Regions from separate parts of the Homo sapiens genome. Here regions 1, 2 and 4 are each reported to be linked to region 3. Evidence: microRNA targets listed by miRTarBase, many of them from high-throughput screens and not tested one by one. Region 3 holds a microRNA gene; each other region holds the end of a gene's coding sequence.

The links. The annotated mature microRNA hsa-miR-510-3p reads AUUGAAACCUCUAAGAGUGGA and lies in region 3 at 2,039-2,059, opposite strand. An mRNA with a match to its seed (bases 2 to 7 or 8) in the 3' UTR can be bound and repressed. Matches are read on the target gene's strand: a 7mer-m8 pairs with bases 2 to 8, a 7mer-A1 pairs with bases 2 to 7 and ends in A, and an 8mer does both.
Region 1: miRTarBase lists TBCA as a target of hsa-miR-510-3p. The part of its 3' UTR that is shown has no 7-base or 8-base seed match.
Region 2: miRTarBase lists UGT2B11 as a target of hsa-miR-510-3p. Seed matches in the 3' UTR shown: 7mer-A1 at 2,643-2,649.
Region 4: the mRNA of MRPL18 is a reported target of hsa-miR-510-3p. Seed matches in the 3' UTR shown: 7mer-A1 at 693-699.

Annotation. Positions count from the first base shown.
Region 1 is chr5:77,688,602-77,691,761 of GRCh38, forward strand. It overlaps TBCA (tubulin folding cofactor A), which reads right to left. Exons shown (of 4, transcript NM_004607.3): 4 at 2,565-2,897. The coding sequence ends at 2,817. Among named protein-coding and RNA genes, the nearest start is that of OTP, 51 kb to the left of the region's middle.
Region 2 is chr4:69,197,663-69,200,822 of GRCh38, forward strand. It overlaps UGT2B11 (UDP glucuronosyltransferase family 2 member B11), which reads right to left. Exons shown (of 6, transcript NM_001073.3): 6 at 2,289-3,057. The coding sequence ends at 2,778. It overlaps LOC105377267 (a long non-coding RNA gene), which reads left to right. Exons shown (of 6, transcript NR_136191.1): 3 at 2,810-2,916. Among named protein-coding and RNA genes, the nearest start is that of UGT2B11, 16 kb to the right of the region's middle.
Region 3 is chrX:147,270,304-147,273,463 of GRCh38, forward strand. It overlaps MIR510 (microRNA 510), which reads right to left and starts at 2,105; the gene lies at 2,032-2,105. It overlaps LOC105373347 (periphilin-1), which reads left to right. Exons shown (of 4, transcript XR_005647084.2): 4 at 580-1,592.
Region 4 is chr6:159,797,675-159,800,834 of GRCh38, forward strand. MRPL18 (mitochondrial ribosomal protein L18) reads left to right here. Exons shown (of 4, transcript NM_014161.5): 4 at 378-755. The coding sequence ends at 449. It overlaps PNLDC1 (PARN like ribonuclease domain containing exonuclease 1), which reads left to right and starts at 2,602. Exons shown (of 19, transcript NM_001271862.2): 1 at 2,602-2,709; 2 at 3,098-3,155. The coding sequence starts at 2,634.

The sequences.
Region 1 (3,160 bases), not on the chromosome of region 3:
AAAACTTAAAAACAAGATGCTGAATTGATTACAGCTGCTCATATTTTAATATGCTTATTGATGGCCATGAAAACCTAAGTGGAATGTATGAAAAATTCCCAGAAATATAGTCTTCACAGGATGTTAAGCCTCTTGTGCTTCTCATTAATACTTGGAGAGTGATCCAGTATAAAATCTATAGTTGAGACAGGAATTCTCTAAAGATATATTTCTTTTTCTTTTTTTTTTGAGACAAAATCTTGCTCTGTCACCCAGGTGGCAGTGCAGTGGTGCAATCTCGGCTCACTGCAGCCTCTGCTCCCAGATTCCAGCGATTCTCCTGCCTCAGCCTCCGGGTAGCTGGGATTACACGCATGTGCCTCCATGCCCAGCTAATTTTTGTATTTTTAGGAGACACAGGGTTTCACCATGTTGGCCAGCTGGTGATCCTCCTGACCTCAGGTGATCCACCCGCCTTGGCCTCCCAAAGTGCTAGGATTACAGGTGTGAGCCACCACGCCTGGCCAACAAAGATATGCATTCTTTCATTTACCTTATTATTGATTTCTTCTTTTCTAGGCTTTTTGGCAACAAAGTAATTTTTTTAGTAATCATGATTTGAGTCCTTGCTGCAAGACTTATACATATGAATCTGTATCTATATATATTTGTGTTCTGTTCTCTTTAAGCTTTAATTGGTCAAGAAACCATTTGCTATATATATATATTTATATATAGAGACACAGAGAGAGAGGTTATACATTAAAAAAAATACCAAAATAGTTTCTGTAAATGAAATACTACTTGGAAAACTAATTGGCACTTCCCCCGCACCCGCCCCCACCCACCCACCCCTTCCCAAGCCAATCTATTGCTCTGGTACTTGATAGCAACCACAAAATAATCTAATTCTCTTGGTGTTCAAACCTCTAACACTAAACCTTAATATCAAGTTTTACACTATAATTACTTTTTATTTTCTCAACTTTTCCTTTTCCCACCTCAAATACTTTTAAAATGGCATGTAATATGTTTTGGGATGACATTCCAATTTAGAAATGCTTCTGATATATGTTATTCTCTGAAGAAGTAATTTTTGGCATGTGTAATAAGGTTATTTTTATTTTATTTTATTTTATTTTGAGATAGAGTCTTGCTCTGTCACCCAAGCTGGAGTGCAATGGCATGATCTTGGCTCACTGCAACCTCTGCCTCCTGGGTTCAAGCAATTCTCCTGCCTCAGCCTCCCAAGTAGCTGGGATTACAGGTGCCTGCCACCAAGCCGGCAAATTTTTGTATTTTTTAGTAGAGACAGGGTTTCACCATGTTGGTCAGGCTGGTCTCAAACTCCTGACCTCAGGTGATCCACTTGCCTCGGCCTCCCAAAGTGCTGAGATTACAGGCGTGAGCACTGCGCCTGGCTTAAGTTTATTTTATAAGTGATATAATCTGTGCTTTATAACAACAGAACCTTTAAGAATAACTTAGGAAAAAATAATTATTTTTCTCTTTTCTGATCTTTGGACAGATTCAATAAATGTTATGATTTCTAGTGATTATCTACAACTTCCAAAATCATACCAACCATAATAACACTGTAAGTATTTAATGCAGCAAAAATTCAAGTTTTTTTTTTCCAATTTTGACTTTTCAAATTTAAATGCTATATATAGATATTTGGTTCCTTACACCAATGCCCATTAGGCTGGTGATATAAGGCTCACACACATTTTCTGGAAATATAAAAAATCTAAATGAGTTGTCTTGTATTTTTGGAAAATAAACTCAAGTGATTGGGTAACAGGGTCACAATTGTACTGGAAAAATGCTTTCTGACAAAATGATACTTTTCCCCCCCGAGTCAATCTAGATAATCAAGATTGGCTACAGCCAAATTATGGTGGAGCTGGCCCAAATTTTCATAACTCTGTGTTCAGTGATGTCATATTAGTAGTTTGAAATTGGTCAAAGGTAGGAGTATTTATACCACAGAAATCAGCAAAAGCTACCAATCAGAGGTTCCCCTCCTATTCTGAAGAGTCTTTAAATATTTGCCAGCACTTCACTGGCAATGGCCATTATTGTTTCAAAATACCATTCAACTCTTCATTGTTCATAAGAATCTTATTTGAAGATCTAAATGGTTGGGGGTGTTTTCTGTGTGAATCTGTCCTCGAAAAAGATTTAAATGTTTCTCATTCATTTATAGTCATGGAAATGTTAGAGTTTCACTGTGAAGGCCTTATTATGTGAGACCTTCCCCAAAGAGAGTTCTTCCTTTTATATCAGTTGTATTCTATTCCAAATAAACTGCTTACAATTCAATCTTTTAGAGATAGGGTCTTGCTATGTTCCGTAGGCTGGAGTACATTGGCATAATCATACCTTACTGCATCCTCATACTACTGGGCTCAAGCAATCCTCCCACCTCAGCCTCCCCAGTAGTTGGGAATACAGATATGTACCACTACACCCAACTAAAATTTGGATTGTTATTTGAAAAAATGGTATTCTATTTTTTAAAACTCAATCCATGCTTGTGAAGCAAAATATGTAGACTTCGAATAGAACCTAACAGATTATAGTTCTCTGTCATAAAGTCTATGTGGTTTAATGATAAAAGGTTAATTTAAAAATTTTGTAAAGTATAAAATAAACAATTTTATTAGATGAACTCATTTATTTGACATATTAAATTAGACAAAGAAATATATATGTAACCAGATAAAAACAATCACATTCTCATACTACTTGAACACATAGCAGTGGTCAAAAATAATGGATTGTAAAATGGACCCCAGGATTTAATGCAAAAACCACCCCATACGAGAAAAGTTTCAGGCTTCTAACTTCACTGAATCCAGTACTAAACGTGCTTCTTTATATTCCTCAGCTTCTTCCAAGTCTTTTTCATTTTCCTAAAATGAAATACAATAAAAATTAAGTTTATCCTTTTCAAGTTTCAGTACTTTGTTATTTACTCAAATATTACAAACCATTAATGTTAATAACTAAAAAATTAAAAGTAAAAAATCCCAAGCCTCATCTAAATATATTGTAATTCCACAGGTTTCCCACATTCTGTTCCTTCTTTACAAGGAAAGGAAGAAATAACTGGTGGTTTTGTTTCACTGTATATATTCTCATAAAATAAGTGAATAACAGTCTTCTAAAGCTACCA
Region 2 (3,160 bases), not on the chromosome of region 3:
TGATTAGCAAGTCAATTCCACCCAAATGTGGAATTCTCAACAAGACATTGATCAAAAATTAGCTAATCAAATTAATGATTTAAGACAGTCTGTTATTTGGCTTGGAAATCAGCTGATGAGTCTCGAACATCACATGCAAATGCAGTGTGATTTGAATACTTCTGATTTCTGTATCACACCATATTCCTACAATGAGACTGATCATTCATGGAAAATGGTCAAAGGACACCTTCTGGGTAGGGAAGATAATTTATTCTTGGACATAACTAAATTAAAGAAACAAATTTCTGAAGCCTCTCAAGCTCATTTACCCATTGTGTCTGGAGCTGAGGCGTTAGATCAGGTGGCAGAAAGTATTTCTGGACTAAACCCCACGACTTGGATTAAGTCTACTGGGGGCTCCACGGTAGTAAATTTTGGAATAATATTTCTCTGTTTAATCGACTTGTTTTTAGTGTGCTGGACCAGTCAAAGATTCCCGTGTCAAAACCTAGAGAACAAACAAGACTTTGCACCATGGCACATTTATATAAAAAGAAAGGGAGGGATGTTGTGGGAAGTCAGGGACCCTGAATGGAGGGACTGGCTGGAGCTGTGGCAGAGGAACATAAATTGTGAAGATTTCATTTTAATATGGACCTTTGTCAGTTCCCAAATAATACTTTTCTAATTTCTTATGCCTGTCTTACTTTAATCTCTTAATCCTGTTATCTTCATAACCTGAGGATGTATGTCACCTCAGGATCACTGTGATAATTGTGTTAACTGTACAAATTGCTTGTAAAACATGTGTGTTTGAACAATATGAAATCAGTGCACCTTGAAAAAGAACAGAATAACAGCAATTTTGAGGGAACAAGGGAAAACAACCGTAAGGTCTGACTCCCTGTGGGATCACACAAAAACAGCCGTATTTTCCTGCTTTCAGAGAGCCTATAAATGGACTTGCAAGTAGGGAAGATATCGCTAAATTCTTAGCCTAGCAAGAAATATTAATATTAGTACTCTGGGAAAGGAATGCATTCCTGGGGGGAGGTCTAAAACCAGCCACTCTGGGAATGTCTGTCTTATGTGGTTGAGATAAGGACTGAGGTATGCCCTGGTCTCCTGCAGTACCCTCAGGCTTATTAGGGTGGGGAAAATCTCCACCCTGGTAAATTTGTGGTCAGACCAGTTCTCTGCTCTCGAACCCTGTTTTCTGTTGTTTAAGATGTTTATCAATACATGCACCACTGAATATAGACCCTTATCAGTAGTTCTGCTTTGCCTTTTGTCCTGTTCCCTCAGAAGCATGTGATCTTTGTTCTGCCTTTTGCCCTTTGAAGCATGTGATCTTTGTACCTACTCCCTGTTCTTACACCCCCTCACCCCACCTTTTGAAACCCTTAATAGAAAACTTGCTAGTTTGAGGCTATGCTGGGCATCACGGTCCTAACAATAGGTGATGTCACCCCCGGTAGCCCAGCTGTAAAATTCCTCTCTTTATACTCTTTCTCTATTTCTCAGCTGGCCAACACTTATGGAAAATGGAAAGAACCTACATTGAAATATTGAACATGGGTTCCCCTGATACACACACACACACACACACACATATATATATACACATGCATATACATACTACGTATATATATACACCATGGAATACTACTAAGCTGTAAAAAGAAACAAACTAATGGCATTAACAGCAACTTGCATGAAGTGGGAGAGCATTATTCTAAGTGAAGAAATTCAGGAATAGAAAACTGAACATCATCAATTGTCACTTCTAAGTCAGATCTAAGCTATTAGGATGCAAAGGCATAAGGATGATGTAATGGGATCTAAGGATTCAGATGGGAGGCCGGGAGGGGGTGAGAGATACAAGACTATACATTCAGTGCAAGGTACACTTCTCACATGATATGTGCAACAAAACCTCAGAAATTACCACTAAAAAACGTACGCATCTAATCAAACACCACCTGTTCCCAAATAACTATTGAAGTAATTAAAAATATCAGAATAAAATCAACCAGACAAATATTTTTACATATCTGGAAAAAATAGAATTTGCTCATGAAACCAAAGATGTGGCAAAACAGTTCAATTTTACAGTAGGAAGCAGGTAAGAGTGGCTATATTTCTAATTCCACATAATTTCCACTGAGAAATGACATGAGCTCTTAAAACAGTAAACATTTGGCCATCAATTTTAGCAAAAAATGTGACAATGAAGCTGCATGCAGTGTAAAAGTAAAGGAATACTACTTATCTCAAAATATCAAAAGGAAGAGAGAGACTTTATATACAATTTAACTATGTAATAGTTTCTTTAGCAACAGTTAAAACAACAGAATCCTGTTCAAAATGAAGCCAAATTATTCTGAGGATGTGACTACTGATACTGTCAGTAGACTTCTTAATGTTCTTGTGTTTATGTAAAATGTGTGAAATATAGTTAAGCTGAGTAAATTTTTTCATGTAACTTGTGAATTCAAACAACAAATCTCAATATAAGTGCAACAAATTTCAATATGAGCTCAAATGGCTTTATATTATTTTTTAATTTTCCTAGTATTTTCTTCATTGCCACAAAATATTTCTAACCATTACCTGGGTGGTAAATCTCTGAAAAACAAATTTTTACTTGACAAGGTAGATTTGAAAATTTTTTTTTTTTTTTTTTTTTTGTCACAGGAAGAAAGAAATCTTGCATAACAATCTTTTCTTTCTTGCTGGAATAAACTGAAGTTGTCCTATCTATCTGGTTTTCCAGCTTCAAATGTCAGACATAACTAATCTCTTTTTCCCTTCTTCCCTTTTCTAGCAAACTTCCAGAAACAAAACAGACAAAACTTTGTGATGATAAATATCACAGTTGCCACACAGGCCAGCAGAAACCCAATCACATCCAAAGAGTGGTACTGGAACCAGGTGAGGTCATGGGCTGCAACTCGAAGGTGTTTGGCTCCTTTGTGGGGCATGACAAATTCAATCCAGAAGACTGCTCGATCCAGGGGCTTTACTGGTTGATCATGTTGAATTCTTGATAATTTCATAATATTCTCTTTATATCTGAAGGATAAAAATAAGGATACCAACACTGAAAGTAAGTTAATTTGCCTGTACATATCAAGTCTATGAAAGGCTTTTAAAGCATCAAATAATTCAAAATAAA
Region 3 (3,160 bases):
AGAACCTAATCAGTTATGGCAAACAGACGTTACGCACATCCCTGAATTTGGAAAACTAAAATATGTACATATATCCATTGATACCAATTCCCACCTAATTAGCACTCATGCTCTTCCCGGAGAGTTTGCCCAGTATGTCATTAAACATATTCTCTTAAGTTTTGCGTTTATGGGGCGGCCCACAAAAATTAAAACTACTAATGGTCCAGCTTACACCAGCTCACAATTTCACCAATTTTGTCACACATGGATGTCCAATATGTGACATCCACAGGCATCCCGTACAAATCCCAAGGACAAGTCATAGTAGAACATGCCCATTCCACCCTTAAAAATATGCTCAGAAAACAAGGGGGAATATGAGTAAGGATGCTGCAACACTACTAGCATAAGCCTTATTTACCCTTAATTTTTTTAATTTAGATAAATTTCAATCAGCCATAGAAAAGCATTTTGCAAAAGCCCCTCAAGACATAAAACCCATGGTTTTATGGAAAGAAGTTAATAGTAATCTATGGTGTGGTCCAAATGATTTGCTGACCTGGGGAAGAGAATATGCTTGTGTTCACACGCCCTCAGGTCCTCTTTGTATTCCAGTGTGACAGACACATCAAACCATACCATGGCGTGGCTAAGACCCAAGCTGGTATCAAAAATAAAGGAAACGACGCTGCAGGACCCGCAGCCCCAGACGATGTGGCTTCCTCCGATGACACAGGCCCCAGACATTACCTGGGGGAAGCTGAAGAAGACAACTCAGGAGGCCGAGTGAATCCTTCTCTGGACACAGACACCATCACTCCAGATAATCTGTTCCTTGCTATGCTCTCTATTGTACCTTGCAACTCTCATAGGGTATTCACCTTTCTTATTCTCTCACTTTGCCTGCAACTCATACCTGCTACATTCTATTGGGCCCATCTTCTAAGATCTGCCTTTCTTCCAACCTGTTACCTTGGCAGACACCCCCTTCCCATCCTCTAATAATGTAACTGCTTAGCTGGGAGGGGTTGACATGCCCCCAGTGGGGTTCCTTAATAATGGCACACATTGAACTGAGGTGCCAAGTAACACTACATATCTCTCCTTGATTGGAAAAGAATAATAGTGACTATACTAATGTTTGACTTATGTTATTTACTAATTCTAGGATGCAAAGCCGGAACACGAGCTGTAACCGCTGCGCCTGTCAAATCTGTCACTGCACACATCTGTACTATTCAATCAACAAAACCCGATGCTAAAAACAGAAAAGGGGGAGACGCGGGAGATCGGTCAGAGTGGTAGGAGAAGGTATAGGGAAAGGAACAGACCTTCTGAAAGGCGGGAAGGCTCTGGATAGCTTCAGGGATGAATAAGCTGAAGGCAGCTGTTCTCTTACCCTGAGGCAGAGGGCAAGGGGTAGGTAAGGAAGTATAGGGGAATTTGGCATAAACAGGCTTGTTTACTTACATTGTCCGGAAACCGACTTTGATCATCAGGGCAGGAGACTGCTCCCTGAAAGGGGGAATAATAATGTTAATTACCCACAGATTGTGTTGGCTCCAGGCTTTCATTATTTTGTCTGTACTGAATAAAAGCAAGCAGCTCCAGCTGTTCGAGACTGCTCACTCTTCAGCCATTAGTGCTGGGCATTCCTGTAGCTGCTCTTACACTGCATGCCTGTGGCTGAGTACTCCTTTCATCCGTTGCTTGGCCAGGGTCTGTGGGATGGACCCCGCAGGTAAGGGTTATCAAAAAAAAAAAAAATTCACAGGCAGATAGGAACACCATGACCATACTAAAAGGCTTTTTTCCCATTTTAGTCTTGCAAGTTTGTAAAGAAGGATATGAAGCCCCTAAGAAATCAGTGAAACACTTTTTCCCAAAACCTTTATTTCCTATGTCTTGTCTTCAGAAGTTTATCTAGAAACTCCCCAGCTAGTTTAGTATTGAGGAGGGTACCAGATGGACTATCTATGTGCTAAGAAAAGCATACCACTGCATGCAACTAAATATCTGCAATATCATTGCATATGTAGTACATGTCATGTGTTACTCCACTCTTAGAGGTTTCAATCACACCTAATTACATGTGATTGCCACTCTCCTGAGTAGGACACCACACACATACACAGCATTCCTGAAAATGGGAGCACAGCCTAAATACTTAATCACACACTTTTCAAACAACCTCTCAAATGTTTTCAGTCTGTAAGTGGCCGTTGGCATTTATGTAAATGATTCCTGAAGAACCTACATCATTTTTTATTCACTCATTCCCCCTTGAGTGTTGTCCACTCATGGTTTGGAGTTTTCACATGGCAGTTTTCAGGACTAAGAACCTTCCTGCTAGGCTCTCCTGCTAACGGGAAAAATCTCATTCGATGCCTTATTCTATTTCTTTTCCCATTGTTTTATATAAAGTATTAATGAGTAGATTGCATTCCCCAGATTCAGTAGCTACCCAGACACTACACTCTATCTCACCAATCTGTGCCTATCATCCAAAGATCTGAGTTCTTCTACCTGAGTTCCTTACTACAACTCCTCACTACAGAATAAGCAAGGACATCACACAGGATCCTGGAAGCAAAGAAGAGAGAATAATCAGTGAGTGGTAAGATGGAGAGAGTAGAATTTCTTTTATCCTCATCAAATTTTGAAGTGAAAAAAAAAATCCCATTTTACTTACCAGGAGTGATCTACAAAACAGAAATTGTGCTAGGCACCCAGACACTCTTAGAGATTTTTCAGTTTCTGGGTTTTCTTCGTCTTTTCTGGGAGCAAGGTTCTTTTTAGCATGTGTTTGCATTTTTCCAATCTGAGACACATGCTACTAGGTGACTGTGTTTCCCTGCAAAACTAAAATTAGCACACACAAAAATATGGACACAATTTTGGTGACTGGATTTCAGAGACTGAGAACTGAGAATTTAAAGTGACTGTGGCTTACAAAATTACCTGTTCCCCTATCTCCTAATCAAGAGCAACAATATACTTGTGGGTTTAAGAAGCCTCCAGAATTTCTCATCCACTCCACAAACCCAGTTTAGTGTTTCAGAGGCTAAATACTAGGCATGTGAGGTTAGAGGTCAGGGGCCTGCTACTATAGCCATTCTTCATCACAGGGTTTAGGCTCTATACCAGGTGCAGCCGGCGGAGATAATTGAGTACGTAA
Region 4 (3,160 bases), not on the chromosome of region 3:
TCAGTCCATAGGGTAGGGACTAGTACTCTCATTCTATACAGAAATAAACTGAGGCTTACTTGCCCAGAGTCAGTGTATGGTGGATTTCAAACCCAGGGTGACTGATTCTGTAGTCCATGATGTCAGCCACTGTATTTCCTGTTCATATATTGACATCTTGTCCATATAATATTTTGAAATGCTGCTGAACCTTGACATCTCTACATTTCCTTTTTACTTACATCATTATTAAGATCACTTTCTGAAAAACCGTTGTAGGCTGGGAAGTTAGCAAGAACAAATCAATTTATTTCTGTCTTTTGGAAGGTGAAAGTATTTTCAGCCTACTCGTGCTGCTGACTTAATCTTTTCCTTTTTTTTCTGATTTTCAAAACCAGATGAAACGACTACAAAGTGCCATGACAGAAGGTGGTGTGGTTCTACGGGAACCTCAGAGAATCTATGAATAAATGGAAGCATTAATTGTTTTGAACATGTAAATATAAATCTGTCAGCCACTACAGCCATCAAAAGAGAGCATCTGGAAGAACAGCCAGCTTGGAAGTTTTACAGCAATAATGTTGCAGTGGAATATTATTTGTAGTTAAGGTCATCCTCCTCCCCTTTCTGTTTTTTTAAATCAAGAACTACGTTCTGCCCCTCTCTTGGGCTTCAGAAGCATCTAAGAAAAGCAGTCATCAATTATAATTAACTTTCAAAGGGCAAGTCAGAAGTTGTTTATAAATTACAAAATAAAGGCATATTATGAACTCTTATTTTCTGGTTATATGACATTGTCTGAGCTCACTGTGGCAGTGGAGCACATATGAGGTTGATGTAAAGCACTTATTACTGTGTCTAGTTCATGGCGAGTGATCTCAGTGAATGACAGTTGTTTGCTGCTCGGAGTGTGGGTTGTTTTTTAAAATAGGAAATGTCAGTATCAATCTAATACTATAGAACAGTCAGTATGTGAAAATGAAAGGACCAAATGCCAACCTCACTTGGACTCTTGGTTCCCAACAGTAAGAGAAACAAATTTGAAAGAGGAAGGAGGTGGCATCAGGAGCTGAAAGCAGAGGTGGAAATGGTTGGGGTTAGTGGGCGCTCAATTTGCCATGAAGTGAACATTTTATTAGATAGGAGATGAAACTTGAAATGCATGCAAGTTAATCTAAAATTTGAGCTTGGGTAGATGGGAATCATGGCAGTTCTCTGAAAGGAGCTGATTAAGGTGTTAATTTTTGGCTATTTGATAAATGTGAGAAAAAACCTGTAGGCAGTTAAGGTGGCTTCTAGAGCATTGTTTTCCAGTTTTTTTAATGTATACCCCAATTAAATGTTTGTTTAGAAGTGAAATATGTTACTTCTGCCAATTTGAGTATTCAATGTGTTATTTTAAATGGAACACATCTGTATGAAGTATGATTTGTTCTGAGAGGTCTTCAGAATCAAATGGCTTAATAGTCCCCTTTTGCTTAATTAATGTCCCGGAGAGGCATTTAAAAGTATAATTGAAGATCGGATGCAGTGCCTCACACCTCTAATCCCACCACTTTAGGAGGCTGAAGCAGGTGGATCACTTGAGGCCAGGAATTCGAGACCAGCCTGGCCAATACGGTTTAACCCTATCTCTACTAAAAACAAAAATGAGTTGGGCGTGGTGGTGCATGCCTGTAATCCCAGCTGTTCAGAGGCTGAGGCGGGAGAATCGCTTGAACTCAGGAGGTGGAGATTGCAGAGAGCCGAGATGGCACCACTGCACTCCAGCCTGGGTGACAGAGTGAGACTGTCTCAAAAGGAAAAAATAAAGTATAACGGTAATGTTTTCTCCGCTAACCTTAAAGATTGATTTGAGCACCTCACTTTGAGGACCATAGTTCCAAAACGCTGTTCAAGTAGAAGCCTAGAATTCAAGGGAGGACACTGTAAGGAAGACCATGGACTAGTTGCACTGGAAACAGTAACAAAAGTAAAAATTAAGCTCACATGTATGTGATGATGTAGGTAGGGATTTCCGCAAGGAGTGAGTGCACGAGATAATCCCTGGGGACCAAGGATTCCTTCAATTTAATGGGCAGTTCTTGAGGCTTTGCAAAGTTTGATTGCAGGTGTGAAGACAGTGGTAAGGTGGACAGCAGAATGAGGAAAAAGATGTCCAGGGGCGTGGGAGAGGGAATGGGGACAGACATACTGGCAGTGATGGAGAAGTTGGGAAGAGGTGATTTAGAAGACCGTGAGCCGCAGCAAAGGATCTGCTTATTGCAGTTGCGTCCGGTGTTGTTCCTGCTCCGCTTTTCTGATTTCACCCTTTCTGGACTCTGTCTTCGTCTCCTGCCACGCCTCTTAACATTCTAAGTCCATGTAAATGACATTCTCACGTTAAGGGCTGCAAAGAAATTGCTGAGGAGCCAGGTAAACAGGCTTTGATTGCAATTGCAATCAAACCTCTGTAGCAAATCGTACAATTAAAACACCCGCAGGCAGGTGTGGGCGACGCCAGCAGCACACGGGGAAGCTGGGCACGTGGGGCGGAGGCAGCTGCCTGGTTTCCATGTGTGCGCCCTTTAAGACCCGGCGGCGCGACGGAAGCGCGTGGGCAGCACGTGGGCAGCACGTGATAGCGCTGGGCGACTCCGCGGAGCTGCACGGCCATGGACGTGGGCGCCGACGAGTTCGAGGAGAGCCTCCCTCTGCTGCAGGAGCTCGTCCAGGAGGCCGACTTCGTGGGTGAAGAGCCTGGGATTCGCGGCTGTGCCGGACAGAGCCCCTTGCCCCGGGCGAGCTTGAGGAGGGGGTGGCGGGACGGTTGCCAGGCCACAGGGCCTCAGAGAGGGCCTCGGGAAGGACAGGGGGGCTTCCTTCTCCAGCCCCGGGGCGGTGGGACTTTGAGCAGCAAGTACACTCCGAGCCCCACGTCCCTTGTTGGCCAGAGCCCCGTGCGCCCAGGTGCCTGGCTGCTCCTTGCCTTGGTTCCTCCATTTTCCCTTCCTGACCTCACTTGGCTTCTTGAGCGCAGAGGTGAGCGCGGGTGCCTTGGCCGCCTGCAGATCTACAGTGTGAGGAGTGCTGGCGATGTTCTGCACCCGAGGACTGCTATTTTTTGCCTTCCTGGCAGGTCTGGACATAGAGTTCACGGGCCTTCGTTCTAACCTGTCTGGGCCCCAGCAGATCAGGTAAA